Regions from separate parts of the Homo sapiens genome. Here region 2 is linked to region 1. A link means that fine-mapping ties the variant in region 1 to the expression of a gene that starts in the linked region. Tissue or cell type: whole blood. Region 1 holds a variant in brackets; the other region holds the start of a gene. All regions are shown on one strand. Distances are between the middles of the regions.

Region 1 (8,000 bases):
TTTACCTTTATAATAATCTTGTGTGATATGTTCAGTATTTGGTATATGGAGTCAGAGAGTCAGAGTATACCTCCAATCTAACTTTTGATTTATAAGTGAAATAGGAATATAATGTTAGTTTGAAGTATTAACCATTCACACTTTTTTACATGAGTATCAACTTACGAATACTAAGCTAAACACCTTTATGTATTGCTTTTAAATGTATACTTAAAGGCTGAGGTGGGCAGATTGCTTGAGCCCAGGAGTTTGAGAACAGCCTGGGCAACATGGCAAAACCCCATCTCTACAAAACATGTGAAAATTAACCAGGCATGGTGGTGCATGGCTGTCATCCCAGCCACCCCAGGAGGCTGAGGTGGGAGGATCGATTGAGCCCAGGAGGTTGAGGCTGCAATAAGCCATGATTGCACCACGGCTGGGTGACAGCCTGGGTGACAGAGCAAGACCTTGTCTCAAAAAAAAAAAAAAATAGTATACTTAAAGTGCTTCTTAATAACTAGTGATAATGGCTTTCTATATTGAATAAGTTTCATGGTATGGTCTAGTTGAAATTTGAGAAAATAGACTTAAAAGTCAGTTTCTTATAATTAGGGCGCTTTGTAATTCATTATTAAACTGCTGCCAGTTTTGTTGATTACTTCCCTGTCAGTTTAAAGTATGTTTTTAATTGATACAGATTCAGCGTTTGTTGGAAGCACAGTCTCTGATGCCCTGTTCCCCTAAGACAACTGCTGTTGAAGACACAGTGCAAGCTGGAAGACAAATGGAGTTGGTTTCTGTGGAAGCACAGTCTTCCCCTGGCTTGCACATGAGAAAAGGTGTAAGCATTGCTGTGAGCACAGGTAATTTCAGTTTTTTTTTAATTTGTAAGGAAATTGTTAAAAATGCTTTTCATATCTGGTTTTTGAATTTTATGTTCAAATTGGTGCATGGTGCAGTAGGACCAAAACCAAGGTGATGAGAGTATGACTTAAGTTTTTGTGTGATTTTAGTCTTTGTGAAATAAAACTACACCTGCAAACTGCATAACATGATAAAGTGTTTGATTTTGCTACTTTTCTAGGCTGGACCCAATTCTGGTTTTTTTTTTGTTTTTTGTTTTTTTTTTTGAAATGGAGTCTCGCTGTGTTGCCCAAGCTAGAGTGCAGTGTGGTGCACTCTCAGCTCACTGCAACCTCCACCATCCTAGGTTCAAGCAATCCTCCTGTCTCAGCCTCCCAAAGTGTTGGGATTACAGGCGTGAGCCACCGCGTCCAGCCAGTCTTGTTTGTATTAATTTATTTTCATAAAATCACCCAAGTATATCCTCAGAGTAGAAACCATTTTGACTATGATTTACTTTTTTTTTTTTTTTTTTTTGAGACGGAGTCTCACTCCGTCACACAGGCTGGAGTGCAATGGCATAGTCTCGGCTCACTGCAACCTCCGCCTCCTGGGTTCAAGTGATTTTCCTGAGTAGCTGGGACTACAAGCGCCTGCCACCACACCTGGCTAATTTTTGTATTTTTAGTAGAGATGGGGTTTCACTATGTTGGTCAGGCTGGTCTCCAACTCCTGACCGCATGATCCACCCACCTCAGCCTCCCAAAGGGCTGGGATTGTATTACAGGCATGAGCCACTGTGCCCAGGCTACTTTTTGGTTTTAACCATCTGTTTAAACCATTATGTATTAGCAATATTCCCCAAATTATAGAATGCCTATGGCTCGTGGTACAAAAGATGATTTAGGGTGTTATACAGATTAATATTTATATTTTGTAAATATATCTTTTCCAATACTCATAGGTATAAATACAATAAGCATATCAAATCTGTGATTTTAGAGAAATAATGAGGCTCAGTAAAAAAAGAGTTAATTTAAAGAAAGAGTAAGTAAACAATATTACATGCAAATAGCTCTGAAGATAGGTGTAAGTGCTTCATAAAGATTGAGAAATTGGCTGGGCGCAGTGGCTCATGCCTATAATGTTTGCACTTTGGGAGGTCAAGGCAGGTGGATTGCCTGATGCTAGGAGTTCGAGACCAGCCTGGTCAAAATGATGAAGCCCCATCTTTAAAAAAAATACAAAAATTAGCCACATATGGTGGCGCACACCTGCAGTCCCAGCTACTCGGGAAGCTGAGGTGGGAGGATCACCTGAGCCCAGGGACGTTGAGGCTGCAGTGAGCTGTGATTGTGTCACTGCACTCCAGCCTGAGCAACAAAGTGACACCCTGTCTTAAAAAAAAAAAAAAAAAAAAAAAAAGATTGGGAAACACTTGATTTTTTTTAATACCTGCCTGATATTACAGATATTACAGATGTCTGATGCATCACCAATGTAGTCTTTTAAATATTGCATTTAAGTGTCAAAACCAGAGAACCTAGGGATTTGTATTTTATATATTATCTCATATTATTCAGAGCAGCAGTTTTCAACATACACACCCCATCCCACGGATCATATTCAGAATCTTAATATGTAAAGCAAATCATTTCAGAGCCACCCTTCTTGAAAAAGCAGAACCCAGAATGTGCCCTTCCACCCGACCCGTCCCCTAGTGTTTTGTCTTTCTGTCTTCCACCTACCTCTTCCTGGCATTTCTGAGGAAATATAATCTAAAAACTTAGTTCTAAGTAATTGTGTGTGTGTGTGTGTGTGTGTGTGTGTGTGTGTGTGTATATATATATATATTTTTTTTTTTTTTTGAGCCAGAGTTGCCCAGGCTGGAATGCAGTAGCACAATCACAGCTCATTGCAGCATCGACCTCCTGGGCTCAAGTGATCTTACACCTCTGCCTCCTGAGTAGATGGGACTACAGGCACACCACCACACCTGGCTAATTTTTTTGTATTTTTTTTGTAGAGACAGGATTTCTCCATGTTGCCCAGGCTGGTCTCGAACTCCTGAGCTCAAGTGATCCTCCCGCCTCTGCCTCTCAAAGTGTTGGGATTATAGGCGTGAGCCATTGCACCCAGCCAATATGGCTATTCTTAACAAAGGTTTGGCAGAGTATTATTTTTAAAGTTGAATGTTTGTTTCAGTATCTTAAATTATTTAACCTCCAGGTGCTAGCTTGTTTTGGAATGCAGCAGGTGAGGATCAAGAGCCTGACTCTCAAATGAAGCAAGATGATACCAAAATTTCCAGTGAGGACATGAATTTTTCTGTCGATATTAATAATGAAGTCACAAGTCTTCCAGGTAGTGCATCTTCATTAAAAGCAGTTGATATTCCCAGTTTTGAAGAGAGCAACATTGCTGTGGAAGAAGAATTTAACCAGCCACTTTCTGTATCCAAGTAAGGTCTCTTTGATTTAGTCTTTCATCCTACTTTCAAAAAAAATTTTTTTTGATAGACAAATAATAATTGTATATATTTGTGGGGCACAATGTTTAGATGCATGTTTACAGTATGGAATGATTAAATCAGACCAACAAATCTATCACTTCACATACTTAACTTTTTCTGTGGTAAAAACATTTGAAGTCTACTATTAGCAATTTTGAAATATACAATGTATTATTATTCATTACAGTTGCTGTTCTGTTCAGGTTTTTTTTTGTTTTTAATTCTAATTTCTTTAAAGTCTTCTAACTCAGAAATGATATATTTTCTAACTGGTATTTTCTTTTATGTCTTTACTTGATATGATTTCTATGTAACTGACAACTCTGAGCCTTCTAGAACCATTTCCAGATGTCAGTCTTTGGCTATATTAACAGTCTGGATGAATCAGAAATCGGAAGAAAACTTCAAAAATACACAAGCTCAGGCCTCACCCTAGAGGATCTGATAATATTAGGTTCCAGATACAGATGGAGAAATTTTTTTTTTTTTTTTTTTGACGGAGTCCCGCTCTGTTGCCCAGGCTGGAGTGCAGTGGTGCAATCTCGGCTCACTGCAATCTCCACCTCCCGGGTTCACGCCATTCTCCTGCCTCCCGTGTAGCTGGGACTACAGGCTCCTGCCACCATGCCCGGCTAATTCCGTGTTTGTATTTTTAGTAGAGATGGGGTTTCACCATGTTAGCCAGGATGGCCTCGATCTCCTGACCTCGTGATCTGCCTGCCTCGGCCTCCCAAAGTGCTGGGATTACAGGCGTGAGCCACCACACCTGGCGGAGAAATTTCTTTTATTTAATTTATTTATTTATTTATTTATTTATTTATTTATGAGATGGAGTTTCTCTCTTGTTGCTCAGTCTAGAGTGCAATGGTGCGATCTTGACTCACTGCAATCCCTGCCTCCTGGGTTCAAGTGATTCTCCTGCCTCAGCCTCCTGAGTAGCTGGGATTACAGACACCTGCCACCATGCTGGGCTAATTTTGTTTGTATTTTTTTTAGAGATGGGGTTTCGCCGTGTTGGCCAGGCTGGTCGTGAACTCCTGACCTCAGGTGATCCACCCACCTTGACCTCCTAAAGTGCTGGAATTACAGGCATGAGCCACTGTGCCCAGCCTATTTTATTTTATGTATTTATTTTTTGAGACAAGAGTCTCGCTTTTTCACCCAGGCTGGAGTGCAATGGCACTGTCTTGGCTCACTGCAACCTCTGCCTCCCAGGTTCAAGGCATTCTTGAGCCTCAGCCTCCCAAGCAGCTGGGATTACAGGCGTGCGCCACCACGCCCAGCTAATTTTTGTATTTTTAGTAGAGATGGGGCTTCCCATGTTGGCCAGGCTGATCTGGAACTCCTCACCTGAGGTGATCCGCCTGCCTCAGCCTTCCAAAGTGCTGGGATTATAGGCATGAGCCACTGTGAGATGGCGAGATTTCTAAAGATTCTCCGTATTGCCATTATATATAAAAGAGTCTATTTTTGAGTGATAGAACCTTAATATTTATATATGAAATGTTATCTGAGATTTGCTTCAAATT[AATTC/C]TGTGGGAGAATGAAATGGCTAGGAGTATAAATGAAATAAGATTGGCTATTTGGTAATTTTTGAAACTGATTGTATATGGTGATTTGTAAAATAATTCTCTCATGTTTGAAATTTTTCATTATGAAATTTTCCATTAAATAAGGATCGTAGGCTAGGCTCAGTGACTCTTACCTGTAACTGGGCACGGTGGTGCACACATGTAGTCCCAGGTACTTGGGAGGCTGAGGCAGGAGAATTGCCTGAACCTGGGAGGTGGAGGTTGCAGTGAGCCGAGATTGCGCCACTGCATTCCAGCCTGGGTGACAGAGCAAGACTAAGTCTCAAAACAAAACAAAACAAAAAACGGATTCTAAAGTAAATTTTTTTTTTTTTTTTTTTTTTTAGATACTCGCTCTGTCGCCCTGGCTGGAGTACGGTGGCGTGATCTTGGCTCACTGCAACCTCAGCCTCCCAAGTAGCTGGGACTACAGGCACGGGCCACCACACCTGGCTAATTTTTGTGTTTTTAGTAGAGACAGGGTTTTGCCATGTTAGCCAGGGTGGTCTTGAACTCCTGACCTCAGGTTAGCCACCTGCCTCGGCCTTTCAAATTGTTGGGATTACTGGTATGAGCCACTGCACCTGGCCTAAAGTAATTTATATCCTCAGCAAATTTGGAAACAAACTCAGCAAATATTTGAGTTTCTGGTACGTGCTACCACAAAACTAGACACTAAATATCAAATACTAGGTTAGGCAAAGCTCCTAACTTTATGGAATTTAACCACATGAGCAGCAAATAACATAGTTTCAGATAGTGACAACTGCTCTGAAAAAGTAAACTAGAGTGATCAAGTGGAGTGTAACTGGGATGGTAACCTGGGAACAAGGTGTTATATTAAGTAGAGTGGTAAAGGAAACCATCTCTGTGAGGGGGTGACATTTGAGTAGTGACCTGAATGATGAGAAGGAGCCAGTCATGATAATATCTGGGGATGAGTATTCCAAGTGGAGGAAAAAGCAAGTGTAATGGCAAGTGTGGGTTTAAAAGTTACAGAAAAAAGCATGAAAGCCAGTGTGGCTGGACATAGTGATTGAGAGGGAGAGTATAGGAAATGAAGTCTGAGATACAGGCAGGAGCCAAGTTATATGGGGCTTTGTAGGATATAGAAAAGATTTTTTAATTTATTGCATGCTCATTAAAGCTAGTGGAGGATTTTAGATAATGGAGTGTTATGATCTGATTTTCATTTTTTGAAGACCATTCTAATTGTTTCGTGGAGAACTGAAGGATGTTAAGAGTGGAAGTTAAGATACTAACTGATTAATAAACTAAAGACCAAGTGAGATGAAGATGTCTTGGACTTGTGGAATTCGTGGAAGGGATCAGGTGTAGGATAAATTTTGAAGGTAAAAGAAAAATGTAGGTATAAAACATCCCAGGATAATAGCACATGAAACAGTTTAAAGAGGTTAATTTGAAATTCAAGACCAGGCTAGGCAAAATAGTGAGACCCTGTCTCTATAAAAAAATATTTTAACTTAGCTGGGTGTGGTGGTATGTGCCTGTAGTAGTTCCACCTACTCAGGAGGCTGAAACAGGAGGATCGCTTGAGACCAGAAGTTTGAGGTTGCAGTGATCTATGATAAGTGCCATTGTACTCTGGCTTCAATAACAGAGTGAGACTCCATTTCTAAAAATAAAAAAAGGTGAACTGGTAAGGTGACATGGGGCAGGCAGTGGATTACTTTTTAGAAATTAATAAGCCTTGTGATATTTGACATTTTAAATCATTGTGATTACAATAATGGTTAAGACAATAAACATGTCCCTTCAGAAAACTACAGAGAAACATCTCCTTTTAGTATAGTATATGTTTTAATCATATGATAAAATTAAGCACTCATTGTGTGTGCCACAGTATACAGAAAAGCTCTTTTGTGTATGTTAGATTGAGTTCCTGCAGGGTAAGGATCATAGTAATTTCCATATTTTTAGAATTTGCTGGGCTTGGTGGCTCATGCCTGTAATCTTAGCACTTTGGGAGGCCAAAGTGAACCGATTGCTTGTGCTAAGGTATTTGAGACCAGCCTGGGTAACATGGCGAAACCCTGTCTCTACCAAAATTACAGAAATTAGCCCTTGGTCCCAGCTGTTCGGGAGGCTAAGGTGGGAGGATTGCTGGAGCCTGGGAAGTTGAGTCTGCAGTGAGCTGTGATCACGCCACTGCACTCCAGCCTGGGTGACAGAGAGAGACTGTTTCTTTTTTTTTTTTTTTTTTTTTTTGAGACAGTCTTGCTCTGTCATCCAGGTTGGAGTGCAGTGGCGCAATCTCAGCTCAGCTCACTGCACCCTCCGCCTCCCGGGTACAAGCAGTTCTCCTGCCTCAGCCTGCCAAGTAGCTAGGATTACAGGCACTTGCCACTATGCCCGGCTAAGTTTTGTATTTTTAGTAGAGACGGGGTTTCTCCATGTTGGCCAGGCTGGTCTCCAACTCCTGACCTCAGATGATCTGCCCGCCTCAGCCTCCCAAAGTGCTGGGATTACAGGTGTGAGTCACCATGCCCGGCCAACTCTGTTTCAAAAAAAGTAATTAAAAAAAACTACAGTTTGACCCAGTGTCTGGTTCCCCATGGGGTGAGCCCCAAAGTAGGTCTGCAGTTTATTTAGAATAATTATAGAAACTGAGGACAAAGAGGAGCAAACCATGGGATCTTTATTTATTCTCCTTAACTCTGTAAACTGCAGACTACTTTCTAGAATAATGGGGGTTTTCAGATTGGAATTTTAAAAAATATCCAATCTTGTGTTTTTTTTTTTTTTTTTTTTTTTGGGAGATGGAGTGTTGCTCTGTTGCTCAGGCTGGAGTGCAGTGGTGTGATCTTGGTTCACTGCAACCTCCACCTCCTGGGTTCCGGAGATCCTTCTGCCTCAGCCTCTCAAGTAGCTGGGATTACAAGTGTACGCCACCACACCCAGCTAATTTTTGTATTTTTAGTGAAGACGGTGTTTCACCGTGTTGGCCAGGCTGGTCTCGAACTCCTGACCTCAAGTGATCTGCTTGTCTCGGCCTCCCAAAGTGCTGGGATTAAAGATGTGAGCCACCATGCCCTTGTTTTGGCTTTTTTTTTTTTTTTTTAACTTTAGAA
Region 2 (8,129 bases), 66 kb before region 1:
TTAAAAATTCAAGAATGACACAGTATTCCCATCATGATTTTATAACTAAATTATTGCACAATAATTCCATTCTGGAAACTTAACTCTAAGTATCACACTGATTTAGAAAATAGCTCATTTTCAAAAACAAATTCAGTATTAGAGGATACAGATTTACAAACAATTAGAAAATAAAACAAATTCTCCAAGTCTGGGTATTTGGTAAAAAAAAAAGAAAAGAAGAAAAAGAAAGAACAGGAAGGAGGGAGGGAGGGAAGGAGAGAGGGAGGGAGGGAAGGAGAGAGGGAGGGAGGGAAGGAGAGAGGGAGGGAGGGAGGGAAGGAAGGAAGGAAGGAGAAAAGCAAACAAAACTGAAAAACATCAGTACAAATAAATGTGCAAAATCAATCCCAAAACCTCCCTCCAATCTTTCCTTCCCAGTACAGAACACTCTCAGAAGACACTGTATCAGATTTGCCTTTACCTTCTCTAGGTCTCCAGGAGCAATTTGCAGAGCAGAATTCACCTCCAGAGAAAAAATACCAGCTTCCCTCTAACAATACCCACTTCACTAATTTCAGTGCCTTAGAGAGCAAGATATCCCTAAGGGTTTTTGGTTTTCTCTTTTTCTTCTCTTCCTGTCAACTGAAGATTCTGTAGCTAGGACTCAAATATGTACTTCTGGCAGCCTGAGTTGGAAATCAACATACTAAAGTAACAATTTCAGGTGCCCTGTGAGCTGCATTAGCTTCAGCCAGATTAATTGGAGAATTTACCGTGGATTTATGTAATTTTTTTCCTACAGGAAAAAAACCTCCAAAACTTACATTATTTTGGAATTTAGTTTATAATTGCCTGTATAAAAAAATATTGAGTCAAAATAAAGAGATTCACAAAGGAAAAAAACAACATACCGCTGACTTCACTAACAATAGATATTCCAGGCCGGGCACAGTGGCTCACACCTGTAATCCCAGCACTTTGGGAGGCCAAGGTGGGTGGATCACGAGGTCAGGAGTTCGAGACCAGCCTGGCCAACATAGTGAAACCCCGTCTCTACTAAAAATACAAAAATTAGCCGGGCATGGTGGCGCGCACCTGTAGTCCAAGCTACTCGGGAGGCTGAGGCAGAGAATCGCTTGAATCCAGAAGATGGAGGCTGCAGCGAGCCAAGATTGCCCCACTGCACACCAGCCTGGCCGACAGCGTGACACTTCGTCTCAAAAAAAAAAAAAAAATAGATATTCCAGTGTCTGTCTAGCCAGCTAGGGAATAGCAATTGCTAAATTATAAACTATTTGGAATTAGTTGATTGACAGCTTAATAAAGTTTATGGCAACTAGACTCAAGAGAATACTTTTCATTAAAGAAGATAACAGTTTAAGGTCAAATAATTGTTGAAATCTTAATAATATAATACATTACAGAACATATCTCATCATGGAATCTTGTAACTGATAATTAACAAGTTTAAAATATTATTTGCCATTACTGAACAGAATAAAGAATAATTGCAGAATGTGTAGATTATTTCATTTATGTATTTATTTATTTATTTATTTTATTTTTTTGAGATGGAATCTCGCTATGTCACCCAGGCTGCACTGCAGTGGCGTGATCTTGGCTCACTGCAAGCTCCGCCTCCCCGGTTCATGCCATTCTCCTGCCTCAGCCTCCCAAGTAGCTGGGACTACAGGCGCCTGCCACCACGCCCGGCTAATTTTTGTATTTTTAGTAGAGATGGGGTTTCACCTTGTTAGCCAGGATGGTCTCAATCTCCTGACCTCGTGATCCACCCGCCTGGGCCTCCCAAACTGCTGGGATTACAGGCGTGAGCTACTGCGCCCAGCCCTGAATGTGTAGATTATTTTTTAACCAGTGTAGTAGTATGGGTATTATTAATTTAGGTACAGATATTTTAAAGGCATATTATGATTCAGAAACAGCATACTGTATTTAAATGCATTCAAATATAACACGCATAAAGTAATTTAAAAGAAAAATACTATTTTGCAATAAAAATAACCAGGCCAGGCATGGCGGCTCATGCCTGTAATGCCAACACTTTGAGAAGCCAAGGCAGTAAGATCCCTTGAGTCTGGGAGTTCGAGACCAGCCTGGGCAATATAGTGAGCCCTGGTTTCTACAAAAACCTGAAAAAAAGTTAGCAGAGAGTGGCAGTGCACACCTGTCATCCCAGCTACTTGGGAGACTGAGGTGAGAGGATGGCTTGAGCCCAGGAGGCAGAGGTTGGAGTGGGCCAAGATGGTACCACAGCACTCCAGCCTGGGTGACACAGAGAGACTCGATCTCAAAACAAACAACAACAACAAAACCCACCAATAAAAATAACCAATATAATAAGATCAGGAAGTTTAAAGTAGAGGTAATAAGATCAGAAGTTTAAAGTGGAGAAAAAAACTATCTGCATCTGTCTCTGTGTGCCAGATATTTTACCTCATTTAATATTCACAAATACCATACAAAACAGCCATTTCTATGTTTTCCCTTTTCACAGGGAACTAAAGGCAACAACATCTCTGGGCCTAGAGAAACAGTAAATGGCAGAGTCAGGGTTTGAACCTATATCTCTTTGACTCTAAAGTCTTTGCCCCTTCCCCCATCATGCTATTTAAGAAAGATCACATATACTAAACAAAAATTTGAAATCACTCCCACTTTTCACTTGCCATTTATTTATTTATTTATTTATTTCTGAGACGGAGTCTCGCTCTGTCGCCCAGGCTGGAGTGCAGCAGCCAGTCTCTTTACTTTTTAAAAGACAAGTGACAAGGCCAGGCACGGTGGCTCATGCCTATAATCCCAGCACTTTGGGAGGCTGAGGCGGGCAGATCACGAGGTCAAGAGTTCGAGATCAGCCTGGCCAACATGGTGAAACCCTGTCTCTACCAAAAATACAAAAATTAGCCAGGCGTGGTGGCGCACGCCTGTAATCCCAGCTATGCAGAGGCTGAGGCAGGAAAATCGCTTGAACCTGGGAGGCGGAGGTTGCAGTGTGCTGAGATCGCACCACCGCACTCCAGCCTGGTGACGGAGTGAGACTGTCACAAAAACAAAAACAAAAACAAAAAAACAACAAAAGAAAGAGAACCAACAAAAAAAAATTTTTTTAAGAGGATGTAAATGTTATGTATTTTTTTAGTTGGACTAGTTCCACTTTGACACCTAAAATGATTTTTTTTTTTTTTTTTTTTTTGAGACGGAGTTTCACTCTTTCGCCCAGGCTAGTGTGCAGTGGCGCGATATGGGCTCACCGCAACCTCCGCCTTCCGGTTTCAAGCGATTCTCCTGCCTCAGCCTTCGGAGTAGCTGGGATTACAGGCGCCCGCCACCACGCCAGGCTAATTTTTGTATTTTTAGTAAAGACAACGTTTCGCCATGTTAGCCAGGCTGGTCTCGAACTCCTGACCTCGTGATCCGCCAGCCTCGGCCTCCCAAAGTGCTGGGATTACAGGAGTGAGCCACAGCGCCTGGCAAAATGATCAATATTTATAAATACATCTGTCCAACACATAATGACTTGTTGAACTCATCTAACTTTCTCTGGATGCTATTTAGGGAATAAAATACAGGACAGGAGTTGATTGTTATGAACATATAAGGAGAGAAGCAAAAGCCCCATGCTAATATTGGCCATATCCTAGAAGAGGAGGAAATTATAAGTTCTAGGTCAAAAAAACTTTTGTTGGTTACAGGGTTTCAGAGTGATTTCACTAGAGGCCACCAATGGTCGCCTCTTCTGTTTCTAGATATCCTGTTTTCCTTCTTTCCCAAGCATTCCCCAGATTGTCCATGAAGCCTTTTTTTCCCACAGTGTCAATGCAGCTAACCAACCATACATCTAGCTCAAAAATTGTTAAAAGAATTGAACTGGTAACCTGTCTCAAAGCAAAAGAAAAAAAAGTAACAGCATTTTACATTTGGGAGGTGTTTTATATCCTGAGAAAATCTGGGTTCAGAGACTCTTTTTACTGTATTACAAGGGCTAACTGAGGCTGGGAGACAGGAAGTGACCGAGGGCCGAGCGTGAGTTGGCAGCAGGGCCAAAGGTTGAAGCTTGATCTCAGAACAGCACTCCCGGCTTTCCCCATCCCCGACCCGGGCCGAGCCTCAGGGCTGGCTCCGCCCTAAAGCTTGCGGGGACGGGGCTCGAGAGTGCCAGCGGCAGCCCACAGCACGCCTAAAATAACACCCCGCCCCACGGGCCTCCTTTCTAGAGTAAAGACACGTTCGGTGACAGTGCGGAGTTTAGGGAACCAGAGGGAAGGCGCGGAGAAGAAAAATAGGTCTCTCCTTCAGACAACTGTGGGCGCACACGGCCTCTAACCCAAATCCGCGCTCCTGCTGCCTTCACCTGCCACACGATCAGCGACACGCTAACCTCTGCGCGCTGGGGGACCCCCAAAGGTTGGCCTCCGGGATCCCTCTCCCAGCCCACTCTAGAGACGAATCTGGTCCCCAAAATGTAAGAAAAGAAGGGGCGCAGGAACAAAGCGACCTCAAGCGGTGGCCCCCAAGGCGGGCGGGCGCGGACTACAAGTCCCGGCACGCCGCGCGCCGGCGGCCCTCGGCCACTGCCACGCGGGCGGCGCGGTGGCCGCCGGGACTCGTAGTCTGCGGCTCGGCGACTCCGCGGGGCGCGGACTAGGGGCGGCGGGACAGGCCGGCCCGCATCCCGTCAAGCCCCAAGGAGCCCGCCTGCTGCCCGGGCCTCACCTCGACGATGCGGGCGCACTGGGTCCCCTTGCCGGCGCCGGGGCCGCCGAGGACGAACACGACCAGCGGCTTCATGAGACGTGGAGAGCAGAGGAGAATCGGCCGGCGGGTCTGCAGCAGGAAGCTAAGGCCCAGGACGTGGAGCAGCCCGCTGCGGCAGCGGCTCAGCATACACCGCGCCTCGGCCGGACGCTGAGGGAGCTGACAGCGGCCGGCGCGGCGCGGGGCGGGGCGGGGAGGCGGCGGGAGAAAGGGGCGGGCTGAGCCGGCGCCCGCCGCGGCCCCGCCGCCGTGGCTGCCCGGGCGTCCGCGGCCCTGTCGGAAGGGGAGGAGCTTCGCACGGCGGCGGCGTCTCGGCGACACTCGTGCGGTCCGCGCCAGCTTTCCTCCAACCCTTGGGTGGTTATTAGTGCTTTCTGACTGCAGATATTTTATCCTGCGCCCTCAAGTGTCTGGTGCTGAGCTGGAGGCTGGGACGTGATCCGCGGGAGAGCAAAACCTATTGTCTCTGCTCGCAATGAGTTTCCATTCCAGCCAGTGAGGTATGGGGAGGTAGCCAGTGTGAATGAGTAAACACCAGTACATACAAAAGGCAGTACGATTTTGAAGAAATAACAAGTAGGACATAAGATGGCCAGGGTCGCCAGAGAAGGCTTCAGAAGAGGTGACATTCAAGCCAAGACAAAAGGATAGAAAAGAGCGAAACCAGGCAAACACCAGGATAGAGTGTCCCACAGAGAAAAGCATGTGCAAAAAATCTAAGTTGGTTTGGCATGTTAAAGCAATTGAAGGAAGGCCTGGCTGGGCGCGGTGGCTCACGCCTGTAATCCCAGCATTTTGGGAGGCTGAGGCAGGAGGATGGCTTGAGCCCAGGAGTTCGAGACCAGCCTGGACAACATGACGAGACCCCGTCTCGACCAAAAATTTAAAAGCCGGGCACCGTGACCCGTGCCTGTGATCCCAGCTACTGGGATGTTCACTTGAGCCTAGGAGCCGTAATAGCACCACTGCACTCCTGCCTAGGTGACAATGAGACTGCTTCAAAAAAAAAAAAGGAAAAAAGGCCAGTGACAGTGAGACCAGGGCTGAGTCAAATGAGGGGAGAATGGAAGGTGAAAAGTTGAGAAAGTGAGGTCGGTGGCAGATCAGGACTTTTGATTATGGAAAGGAATTTGGGCTGTATTCTAACAGCAATGGAAGCCCTTTAACTCCGTTCGCCTGCCCCCTTCATTAGGGAAGAATCTTAAGGGAGAAGAAAAGGAGACGTTCAAGAACTGAGCCTTGGTGCATACAGGCCTTTAAAAGGCCTTCTGGCCAACGTTAAGAGCTCATTTGATATTTGAGGTAACGGATTCAAAATAATTGAAGATGTTTGGCCATTCAGGCACAGGCAGAGAAGGCAGCTTGTTGCATTTACTGAGGGTTGGGATTTTGCCTGGCAAGTACAACAGAGAGAGGGGGCCAAGTGATGAGAGTGTTTGGAAGAGAATGTTCATGATGCTGTGTGTAGAATCAAAACCATACAGGAAAGCAAATAATGGCACATGAAGCCTGGTAGTGGAGGGGTTGGAGGGTGGTGGGGAAAGGGACCAATGTCTTAGAGCATTGGCCCAAGAAAGATTGCAGTGGGGTATATGAGCAAGTGCTCTGGCAGTATGGATGCTGCTGGTCTGAGTGGGATATTTGGAATTGAAATGTCCCAGCTTCTGAGTTTCTGATGATGCCAAGGTCCAGGGTGAGACCATGGGAATGGAAGACTGAGGCAGAATGCATGTCCTGTTTTTAGAACTAAGAGTCCAGGGTGTTAGATTTGTCGTACAGGTACAAGTTCAAGTCAGATAGTGCTGGAGTGAACAAAGACTATGGGAAAGGAACTAAGCTGTTTAGGGCAGAGTGACCAGGACGTTAGTAAACGAAAGCAAACAGGAGAGGAAGATAGTGGTATAGCCCTCTGTCTGACCACCCCCATTCTCCTTTTTCTTTTGGTGGTCCTTTCTTAGCTCACTCAGCATTTTCTGGCTCTTCCCCATCTCTACTCTCTCTCCTTGCTTTCTTTTTGTTGTTGTTGTTTTTACTTATTCCCATCCTTCCTACCCTTCTTTTCCCATTTATAAGTCCCTCCCTTCTCCCTGTCTCTTTTCCTGTCCTTCTCCTCACCTACTTGCCTTTGTTTGCCCTTCTTTTCCATTCTCCCTTTAATTTCTACCTCTTTCCTCTCCACAACTTCTACCTTTTCCTTCCCACCATAGAAAGGAGAATGGGATATTTTTTATTATCACAGCTGGAAAAAAATTTTTTTGGGGGGGATAGAGTCTCACTCTGTCACCCACGCTGGAATGCAGTGGTGCCATCTTGGCTCACTGCAACCTCCACCTCCCAGGTTCAAGCGATTCTTCTGCCTCAGCCTCCCAAGTAGCTGGGATTACAGGCACCTGCCACCACCCCTGGTTAATTTTTGTATTTTTAGTAGAGAGGGGGTTTCACCATGTTGTCCAGGCTGGTCTTGAACTCCTGGGCTCAAGTGATCCTCCTGCCTTGGCCTCCCAAAGTGCTGGGATTGCAGGCATGAGCCACCGCGCCCAGCCAGGCCTACACTACACTACAGGTGGTGGTGTGCACCTGTAGTCCCAGATGCTCGGAAGGCTGAGATGGGAGGCTGAGGTGGGAGGATCCCTTGAGCCCAGGAGGTGGAGGCTGAGGTGGGAGCAGCCCTTGAGCCTAGGAGGTGCAAACTCCAGTGAGCCAAGATCGTGCTACTACATTCTAACCTGGGCAACAGAGCCAGACCCTGTCTCAAAACAAAAACAAAACATTTTTCTATGGATACTGAAATTTGAATTTATATAATTTGCATGTGTCCCAAAATATTATTTATTTTTATTTTTAAAATCCATTTTAAAATGTGAACATTATTTTGAGCTTGAAGGCTATACAAAAACAGGGACCCACGTTTAGATATGTGAATTTTCACATAAAAAAACACGGCCGGGCGCAGCGGCTCATGCATGTAATCCCAGCACTTTGCGAGGCCAAGGTGGGCAGATCACCTGAGGTTGGAAACCAGCTTGGCTAACACGGTGAAACCCCAGTTCTACTAAAAATACAAAATTAGCTGGATGTGGTGGTGCATGCCTGTAATCCCAGCTACTTGGGAGGCTGAGGCAGGAGAATTGCTTGAACCCAGGAGGTGGAGGTTGCAGTGAGCTGAGATCGCACCACTGCACTCCAGCCTGGCGACAGAGCAAGACTCTGTCTCAAAAAAAAGAAGGCTCCAAACCCTTCAGCTTCTGGGGAGGAGGAGCTAGGACATGGGCAGCCAAGAACAAGGACAATTGGTCATATTGGGAATGGGTAGCAGGAGTATGAAAAAGGCCATATCAAAACAAATGTGTCTTCTTTTCCTTTGTTCACAC

Evidence for each region. PIP is the estimated chance that this variant, and not a neighbour inherited with it, causes the effect.
Region 2: CMPK1 starts here. The variant in region 1 is fine-mapped to the expression of CMPK1 in whole blood (INTERVAL, PIP 0.95).

Annotation. Positions count from the first base shown.
Region 1 is chr1:47,264,921-47,272,920 of GRCh38, reverse strand. It overlaps STIL (STIL centriolar assembly protein), which reads left to right. Exons shown (of 17, transcript NM_001048166.1): 13 at 680-845; 14 at 3,055-3,286. Among named protein-coding and RNA genes, the nearest start is that of TAL1, 37 kb to the right of the region's middle. The variant AATTC/C (reference allele first, on the strand shown) is at 4,867.
Region 2 is chr1:47,330,704-47,338,832 of GRCh38, reverse strand. CMPK1 (cytidine/uridine monophosphate kinase 1) reads right to left here and starts at 5,043. Exons shown (of 6, transcript NM_016308.3): 1 at 4,717-5,043. The coding sequence starts at 4,887. RefSeq lists enhancers at 3,921-3,980, 3,497-4,300, 4,301-5,104 and a silencer at 4,491-5,130.